Linked DNA regions of Homo sapiens. The protein of the gene in region 2 purifies or fractionates together with the protein of the main gene of each other region. This does not show direct contact. Each region holds a gene or a part of one and is shown on either strand. Other genes may lie near its edges. The genes, in order: TMED2, LMAN2 and ATF6.

Region 1 (2,425 bases), on a different chromosome or scaffold from region 2:
ACTATAATTTTCCTAAAAAGGCGTTTTTCCCCCAATATCTATTAATCTCAAAGAAACATAAGTTGTGAATGTACAGTTCAGAAAATAAAAATGGAGAAACTAATGACATTATTATGACCAAGGTGTTTGGTAAACAGTGAATTCTGAGTTGGGATCATCAGGAAGAGGCTTTTTAAACAACTCTCCGGACTTCAAAAAATCTCTTCAGGTAGTAGATCTGTCCCAATGTCATGGCAACTAGAACAAGAGCTTCAAAGAAGGACCAAAGGACCACTCTGCTGTTTGTGTTGTCGTTGACTGTTGAGGACAAAACAAACAAACAAAATTTAACAATTCTCCCCCAAAAAGACATAGGCATCATAAATATTTTAGTCTTCACTCTGTGTGAAAGTAATATTGTGTACACCACTCATAGAATAGATGTTCCTCAACTTACGATGGGGTTACATCCCAATAAACCCAGCTTATGTTGAAAATACATAAGTCAAAAATATATTTAATACACCTAACCTAGCAAACATCATAGCTTAGCCTAGCCTACGTAAAACACGATCAGAACACTTACATTAGCCTACAGTTGAGCAAAAGCATCTAACAACACAAAGATTATTTTATAATAAAGTGTTGTGTATCTCATACACGTTAAACTGCATTTTATTATTATTTTCTATTTTATTTATCAAGTTAGTGAACACTGCACTGAAAGTAAAAAACAGAATGGTTGCATGGGTACTTGATGCTCAGTTTCTTCTGAATGCACATCACTTTTGCACCATCATAAAGCTGAAAATTTCTAAGTGAAGTCATTGTAACCTATGGGTCACCTATACTCTAAATACTTTTGTCTCCAAGCAACTCAACATACTCCAAAGCAAAGACTTTTTTGTTTGCTCTGTTGCCCAGGCTGGAATGCCATGACACAATCATAGTTCACTGCAACCTTGAACTGTACTCAAGCAATCCTGCCACCTCAGCCTCCTGAGTAGCTGGGAGTACAGGTATGCACCAGCCCATTTGACTAATTTTTTCTGTTTTTGTAGAGAAAGGGTCTTGCTATGTTGCCCAAGTTGGTCTTGAACTCCTGGCCTCAACTGATCCTCCTGCCTCAGCCTCCCAAAGTAGAAGCAAAGATTTTTAAAAGAAACCTTAAAGATTCACTGGGTACAGCCAAGTCCATTCTGCTTGTATATGGGGAGCAGAGAAGAAAATGTGACTTGCCCAAGGTCATAATTCTAGGGTTAAAACCCAATACAACCATCTTTCTCCCTCACCATTGAAACGTCCTGTATTAGTATCCAATTTGCTGAATCAGAAAACTGACTTCTAAAAAAATTAAGGAATTATTTCAAAATCACAGTTATCCAAAATGCAATTATTTACAACATCAAAATATGGCAGTCTGAGTGTCTTTTTCCCCAAATATGTTACAAATATTTGTTGAGCACCTGTGTACTTGTCAATTGTTCTCAATGGAAGAGGTTACTCAGTTATATGGATCCATACTGACAGTTACTACCAGACCATCAAATACAAGACAAACTATGCTCATCTGTCCTGCTCTCAAACTAAGGATTTGATCCTTAAAGTAAAATCCACACCTACTCTATATTTACTATACTCTATTTGTTACATTCAAGTTTCTGATCAAATTCTTTTTATTTACTTACTTTTTTTTGAGTCAGAGTCTCACTGTCACCCAGGCTGGAGGGCAGTGGCGCAATCTCAGCTCACTGCAACCTCTGCCTCCTGGGTTCAAGTGATTCTCCTGTCTCAGACTCCTGAGTAGCTGGGATTACACGTGCACACCCCCATGCCTGGCTAATTTTTGTATTTTTAGTAGAGATAGGGCTTCACCATGTTGGTCAGGCTGGTCTTGAACTCTTAACCTCAGGTGATCTGCCTGCCTCGGCCTCCCAAAGTGCTGGGATTATAGGCATGAGCCACCACGCCTGGCCAAATTCTTTTTATTTTTAAATGTATTTTATTATTATTATTATTTTATTTTTTATGTTTTGAGACAGAGTTTCACTCTTGTTGCCCAGGCTGGAGTGCAATGACGCGATCTCAGCTCACTGCAACCTCCACCTCCTGGGTTCAAGCGATTCTCCTGCCTCAGCCTCCCAAGTAGCTGAGCTTACAGACATGTACCACCATACCTGACTAATTTTGTATTTTTAGTAGAGATGCGGTTTCTCCATGTTAGTCAGGCTGGTCTCGAACTCCCGACCTCAGGTGATCCACCCACCTCGGCCTCCCAAAGTGCTGGGATTATAGGCATGAGCCATCACGCCTGGCCAATTTATTTTATTTTTTTAAAAACGGTCTCGTGTTGCCCAGGTTGGTCTCAAGCTCCTGACCTCAAACAATCCTCCTGCCTCAGGCTCAGAAGCAGCTAAGACTACAGGCACAAGCCATTGTGTCCAAC
Region 2 (3,660 bases):
AGACAGAGTCATGCTCTATCACCCAGGCTGGAATGCAGTGGTGCGATCTCAGCTCACTGCAACCTCCACCTCACGAGTTCAAGCGATTCTTCTGCCTCAGCCTCCCCAGTAGCTGGGATTACAGGCGCGCACTGCCATGTCCAGCTAATTTTTTGTATTTTTAGTAGAGATGAGGTTTTGCCATGTTTGCGAGGCTGGTCTCCGACTCCTGGCCTCAAGTGATCTGCCCACCTCGGCCTCCCAAAGTGCTAGGATTACAGGTGTGAGCCACTGTGCCTGGCCAGTATGTCAGTTTTTTAATTGAACTTGTACTTTCATTTCCACACAGAATATTATCCTAATGCAATATATTTAATGCTTGAAAATGTTATTCATTAGCCTACCATATTCTTCTGCAAGTAAAATTAATATAATAATTTAAACTTTTCAATTTTGTTGAGACTGAAACTTTTAATATTTTGTTTGAGATTATTATAATTATCTGTACACACTTGATAAAAGTAAATGCATTACACAGTTTTTGAGTAATTATACAAAAGTAAACATTTTTTGAAACATGAGATCTCAGTAGGATGTCACCCCCCACCCCCATCTGGATGGATAATACTGTCAGAATAAGACAAGTTCAGTACCACTTCTACTTTTTGTTTTTATGTACATGAATTCTGAGAAACTGTGTTCTCTTAAATAGTAGTTGGAGATGGGGTTATTTTTAAAATTTTAAATTTCTATTATAGATGGGATCTTACTATGTTGCCCAGTCTTATCTTGAACTCTTGGACTCAAGCAATCTTCCCACCTCAGCCTCTGAGTATCTGGGACACAGGTGCTCACCACCACTGTGCCTGGCACAGCGGGAGTTTTGGTAGAGCAGCATCACTGAATATTTTGATCTTCTTTTGGTTTATAAACCCAACGTCATGCAGTGATCTTTTATCAAAATTTTTGATGATGTTTCGGCTGACTGTTGATTACATCTGCATTCCGTTTCGTTGCAAGCAGAGATGTGGAAACTGCTGAACTGTAAAATAGCCTCTTATTGCCAGGTGATTCTGATGTAGTTGGCCTGGTGTAGGACCAAGGCATTAAGCTTTCTGAGCTCCCCAGGTGGGTTTGCTGTGGGTTAAGAACTGTGGTCATATCGTGTTTGTCCCCAAAAGCAGCTTCTGAATCATTTCCAGCCTGTGCCTTGCCTGCTTAAGATCCTCCAGAGGCCTTCTATTGTCTGTATCATAGTATGTCTCTACTAATCTGCAGTTTTAATCTGGGGTCATGAAGACTTTCCAAGGCCTGCGTAGTCCTGGAGGAGTCTGTTTCCAGGTCCTCCACTGTCTCATGTGCTCATTCCTGAAACCAGCCTCCCCGTGAACATGCTGGGAATGGGTGTGTGGGTTTTCCTTTCCCACCTCCCTCACTCAGTTGCCCTTCTGCTCTGAGGTCAGCCTCCCAACAGCCTGGTCTTTCTTCAGGGTGTTGTCCCCAGGTGCAGAAAACTCCTGGGCACCAAAGAGACCATTTGAAATCTGGTTTCTGGGCTGACTTTTGTACATGTGAGATATTTTTTTTTAAAGTTTTCAAATATATGAGGGCTATTTTAGTTATCTTTTAAAATTGTTTATTATTGTTAGATAGCTGATGGAATTGCATCATGGTCAGATTTTTTGGACGCGTTCTGTTTGTGCTTATGAATGTGGATTCTCTACTTGTTGACTACAGTGTGCCACGTAGGTTCTTTAGGTCAAACTTGCTTTCTGAGCTTCCCAGGTGGGTCTGCTGTGCAGCCAGGGTTAAGATTGAGTTCGGATCTTCTCTAGCTTTCCTCATGTTTTTGTCTGCTTGCTTTTATAAGTTACTAAGAGAGCTTTGTTAAAAATTTCTGTGTATGGCTGGGCAAGGTGACACGTGCCTGTAAGTGTCAGCTACTGGGGAGGCTGAGGCAGGAGGATTGCTTGAGTCAAGGAGTTCAAAACCAGCCCAGGCAGCATAGTAAGACCCCATCTCAAAAAAAAAAAAAGTGTTAAAAAAATTTCTGTATATGGATTTGTCTGCATCTTTGTAGTTCTGTCAGTTTCTGTTTTATATGTTTTGAGGCCAAATTAGGTACATACAAAAACTTAGATTTATTATATCTGTAGGTAAATGGAATCTTTTATCATTAAGAAGAACCCCTTTTTACATTTTGTTATGGGTATAGCTATAGAAGCTTGCTTTTTTTAAAAAAAAAACAACAACCGGTAATCAATTTATTAAAATAGTCAACTTTAAATATCTGCAATGGTGACTTCCACCTCAACTCCTGGCTCAATACTGATGGAAGTAATCTGCTTAATCTCAGAAGGACTGTGGAGGTCAGTGAGCCACTTGTGGATTCTCATCTGGAAACGATCCCGTGTGTTAGAACCTTCACAAGGAGTTTTTCTTGTGGTGATTCTCGAAGCCTTGATAGGCGTTCCAGCTGGTCTTTTCACTTTGAGATTCTTTTCCTTTGCTCCTCTGATCAAGTCAGCACACACCTTTTCTGGGGATTCTATGTTGCAGCTCATTAAAGTGATTCAGATTCAGTGAATTGTCACCTCTGGCTCCGCAGGTTTTCTTCAGGTATCTTTAAAGCCGTGGGTGGGCCGGGTGCGGTGGCTCACGCCTGTAATCCCAGCACTTTGGGAGGCCGAGGCAGGCAGATCACCTGAGGTCGGGAGTTCGAGACCATCCTGGCCAACACGGTGAAACCCCGTCTCTATTAAAAATACAAAAATTAGCTGGGTGTGGTGGCGGGCGCTTGTAGTCCCAGTTACTCTGGAGGCTGAGGCAGGAGAATTGCTTGAACCTGGGAGGCAGAAGTAGCAGAGAGCTGAGATTATGCCACTGCACTCCAGCCTGGGCGACAGAGCGAGACTGTCTCAAAAAATAAATAAATAAATAAATAAATAAATAAATAAATAAATAAATAAATGCATGCCATGGCTGCTGCGAGCCTTCCTGACCAACTTGTTCCTCAGCCAGAGCAAACAGTGGTGAGGCAGGAGCAGGAGCGGGCAGACCACAGCTCTGCAGCGCCTGTGGCCCTGTCTTCCTGAAGGAGCAGAAGCTTGCTTTTGGTTAGTGTTTGCATGATACATTTTTCCTGTCCTTTTACTTTTTCCCATTTCTTTATGTTTTAGCGTTTTCTCTTATAAATGGTATATTACTAGGCTTCAGGGGTGTTGTTTTTATGTTGTAAATGCATATAACATAAAATTTACCACTTTAACCCTTTTTACCTTTAAATCCATTAATTTATGAAACTATTTTCTTCAGTAGGCTACACATTGACATTGAAAGAGTGGCTTTTTTTTTTTTTTTTTTTTTTTAGACAGGGTCTTAATCTGTCACCTAGGCTGGAATGCAATGGTGTAATCACGGCTCACTGCAGCCTCGGTCTCCTGGGTGTGATCCTCCCACCTCAGCCTCCTGAGTAGCTGGGACTACAGGCGCACACCACCATGCCTGGCTAATTTTTTTTTTTTTTTTTTGGTAGAAGTAGGGTTTCACCATGTTGACTAGGCTGGTCGTGAACTCTGGGCTCAAGCAGTCCACCCACCTTGCCCTCCCAGAGTGCTGGGATTACAGGCATGAGCCACTGCGCCCAGCCTGACAATGGCATTTAAAAGATGTCATGGCTAT
Region 3 (3,660 bases), on a different chromosome or scaffold from region 2:
GAACTGTAAACTTTTTTTATTTTCTTTCTGCCTAGGTGACTCATCTATAATTTCATGCACAGTTCATATCTATATGTCCTGATGACTCTCAAATTTATGTTTTCAGTCCAGACTTCTCTTCTGAGTCTCCAGAGTCACATATCCAATAGTCTCTTTGACATCTCTGTTTTAACATTTCAAACTTAACATGTGCACTGTGGAACTCAGTTCCTCTCCCTGTTTTACTTCCAACCAATTTTCTACAACTGTGTTTTTTCCTTTCCATTGCTTAAGCCAGAAATCCTGATTCCTGTCTTTCAACAAGTGTTGTTGATACTCTTCCCCAAAATTGTCTTGAATTGGTCCACTCCTCTCCGTCTCTGCTGCCACAAACCTAGTCCATGCCATCATCAGTTCTTGCCAGGATTGCCATAGCTCTTTCCTAATCAGTGTCTCAGCTTCCCCTTTTGCCTCCATTGAGTCCATTTTTGGTACCATGGCAAGGTATGAATGTAAATTGAAATATATCACTTCTTTATTTGAAACACTTTTATGACTTCTTATTACATTTAGTAATTCCTTATTATGACCTGGTCTTTTATTATGACCTTATTATGATTCCTTTCCAGCCTCATCCTGTTCCCTCTCTACCTCCCCACTTGCTTGCAACTCTTCAGCCAGTGGTCTTTTTAAAGTTCTTTGAGCCCACCTTTCCCCCACCTGCCTCTTTTATGCCTAGAATGCTCTTACCCCAGTTTCTATAGAGGCGGCGTCTTCTCATCATTTAGGCCTTGATGTAACTACCATCTCCTTCTCGGACCATTTTATCTAAAGTATATACTACCATTGCTTTTCCATTTCAACCATTTGTTTGTTTCTTTCATAGCACTTACTAGAGTTCGGATTATTTTATGCATTTATTTTCTTCTATTTGGTCCATCTTCCCCATTAAGGTCTTTGGGGACAGAAACTTTGATTCTCTCATTCCCTACTGGATTCTCAGCACCTAGCACAATACCTGGTGCACAGTTGGTATGCAGCAAGTATTTGTTGAATGAATAAATGAAAAGTGTGAGTCTCACTATGTTCAGTTTTATATGTTTACATGTTTTCTTTTGAGATATTAGCATATCTAGTTTTCTAAATCCAGATCATCCTATATAAAGAAATTCAAGAGAGATGCAAGCTTTGTTAGTGAGAGAGATTAAGATTGCAGACTGAAGAGCATAAATAACAGTAATATCCCCATCTCAAATTCTAACTTTCAACTCCAGTTTTGCTCCCTACGTCACACCTTGGATATGAATTCACATGATCTACATCAGTGCGATGGCTAGGAAAGTATATATTTTTGAAGCAAATGGAGTAACTAGTTAATGTCAGTCACTCTGTTGTTTTATTAGTGATTCACATTCTTCCATGATCCCATAGTTTATATTCGGCTTTTCAACTCTTTCACTTTTCTCCTGCCAAGCATTTTATGTCTCACCCTATCCTTAACATACACACACACACACACACACACACACACACCCCTACCTGTTTTACAGATACTATCCAGTTTTATCATAGAATTGTGTCTCACCCTATCCTTAACACACACACACACACACACACACACACACACACACACACACCCCTACCTGTTTTACAGATACTATCCAATTTTATTATCATAGAATTGTGAATGACCCCTAAACTTTAGTCTGGTCACATAATACCACTTGATTTTCGCCTCAATTACCCCGTTACTGTGTTACTACCTCTGTACCAGCAGCATTGTGCATGTCTTAAGCTCATTGAAGATATGATGAACCATGTGTTATTGTATCGCTTATTCCAAATTAATTGCTCAATAAATGGTGATTAGACAAATGTGAATTACCATCCTGTCTCTGTAGAAAATCAGAAAATGACATTTCATGTAAAATAAGGTTTTGTATTTTATACTTTATCTTGCAGTATATTCTGTTTACTATATTTTTGTTTCCATGAAAAGTTAACACTAATGATGATTTTCTTATAGCAAACTTCTTAGGAATTTAAGATACAAGGAAACAAATTTTGTGCATCCATGTTTCAGATATGATCATTCTGTTTCAAATGACAAAGCCCTGATGGTGCTAACTGAAGAACCATTGCTTTACATTCCTCCACCTCCTTGTCAGCCCCTAATTAACACAACAGAGTCTCTCAGGTGAGTGTTGTAGATTATTGCAGAAACATCTGAGTTGGTTCCCATGTTTAGTTTTGGAACCTAGACAAGTAATTGGTCAAGTTCACTAAGTGACTGAGAGAATCTCTGAATTATTTGTGGATAACTGTAGGCATATTAGTTGTCCAGTTTCTCCACCAACCTCATGGAGATGGTGATGGGTCTATTTTATGTGATAGTTGCTTACTTAAATATGTCTTCTTTAAAAACTACAGAATGAAATTAATATTAAAATTTCATGGTGTTAGGCTTACAGTTGGTAACATTCATAGCAGAAAGTACCTTTTTCTTCCAATTAGGAAGATAATAATTTGTGGGTATGTGATTCTGGAGATACTTTACCGTTAGTACACACTTCTTTATCAATTTTTCCCTTGAATTTTTTTTTCCTGTGATTTTGGACCTTACCCTTAAAACCTCAAAAACTACCTCAGATTTTTTGTGATATGTAGTAATCAACTACAGTTAAACATAGTTTAACATCTTCACAGCTGCTGTAAAAAGTAAGCAAAATAAGGGAAGTTATATATGAGCTATGCTTTTATTTCGTGTGTTGAAAAATTTGAATTTTTTTTTACCCCAGGCAATTGAGTTCATTCTTTTTCTTCTCCCAAAAGAGCATGATTTTCAAGAGGTTTTAATGCATCTATTTGTTGTTAGGGGTCCTATGACTTGTTAAGTTCTCTACAATGTGTCTCAAATGTTTGTGTTTATATAGCCCAAGAACAGAAATAGGAAATACTTTTTATTTTGTTTTGTTTTATTTTATTTTATTTTTAGACAGGGTCTTGCTCTGTTGCTCAGGCTGGTGTGCAGTGGCTGGATCATAGCTCACCGCTTCCCCAAACTCCCAGGCTCAAGTGATCCTCTTGCCTTCGCCTCCTGAGTAGCTGGGACTACAGGCACATGCCACCATGCCCAGTTAATTTTTTAAAAAAATTTTCTGTAGAGACAGGGTCTCACTGTGTTGCGCAGGCTGATCTCAAACTCCTGGGCTCAAGCAGTCTTCCCACCCCAGCCTCCCAAAGTGCTAGGATTACAGGTGTAAGCCACTGTGCCTGGCAAGGAAATACTTTTTTTGGTGGAAAAACCTTAGCATCCAGTGTTTATATTTGGGAGGTATTTAGCTGTAGTTTTCTTTGAAGTTTGAATGCATGGTTGACAGGTTTACCATGTAAAAATGCATGTCTTATTAAAAACAACGTTAAGTGTCAACTTTTTCAAATCAAAAAGCAATATTGAGTCATCAGGCACTTGGAATGCTCTTTGGAACCTACAAATGATTAGATTCATTTCCACCCACAGGGTGAAACATCCATTTCTATGTTTAATTAATTTCTATGTTTAATTAATTAAACTATATTTTATAGGTTAAATCATGAACTTCGAGGATGGGTTCATAGACATGAAGTAGAAAGGACCAAGTCAAGAAGAATGACAAATAATCAACAGAAAACCCGTATTCT

Evidence for each region.
Region 1: the proteins of LMAN2 (region 2) and TMED2 purify together in Homo sapiens (affinity purification with mass spectrometry; 2 studies listed by BioGRID and IntAct, with this or other methods). This does not show direct contact.
Region 3: the proteins of LMAN2 (region 2) and ATF6 purify together in Homo sapiens (affinity purification with mass spectrometry; one large-scale study listed by BioGRID and IntAct). This does not show direct contact.

What each region holds. Positions count from the first base shown.
Region 1 is NC_000012.12:123,594,477-123,596,901, reverse strand, and holds part of TMED2 (transmembrane emp24 domain-containing protein 2 isoform 1 precursor), read right to left. Parts: intron 298-2,425; coding exon 173-297; 3' UTR 1-172. UniProt on the Homo sapiens protein: Involved in vesicular protein trafficking. Mainly functions in the early secretory pathway but also in post-Golgi membranes.
Region 2 is NC_000005.10:177,345,027-177,348,686, reverse strand, and holds part of LMAN2 (vesicular integral-membrane protein VIP36 precursor), read left to right. Parts: intron 1-3,660. UniProt on the Homo sapiens protein: Plays a role as an intracellular lectin in the early secretory pathway. Interacts with N-acetyl-D-galactosamine and high-mannose type glycans and may also bind to O-linked glycans.
Region 3 is NC_000001.11:161,849,660-161,853,319, forward strand, and holds part of ATF6 (cyclic AMP-dependent transcription factor ATF-6 alpha), read left to right. Parts: intron 1-2,005; coding exon of another isoform or gene 2,006-2,062; coding exon 2,063-2,176; intron 2,177-3,564; coding exon 3,565-3,660.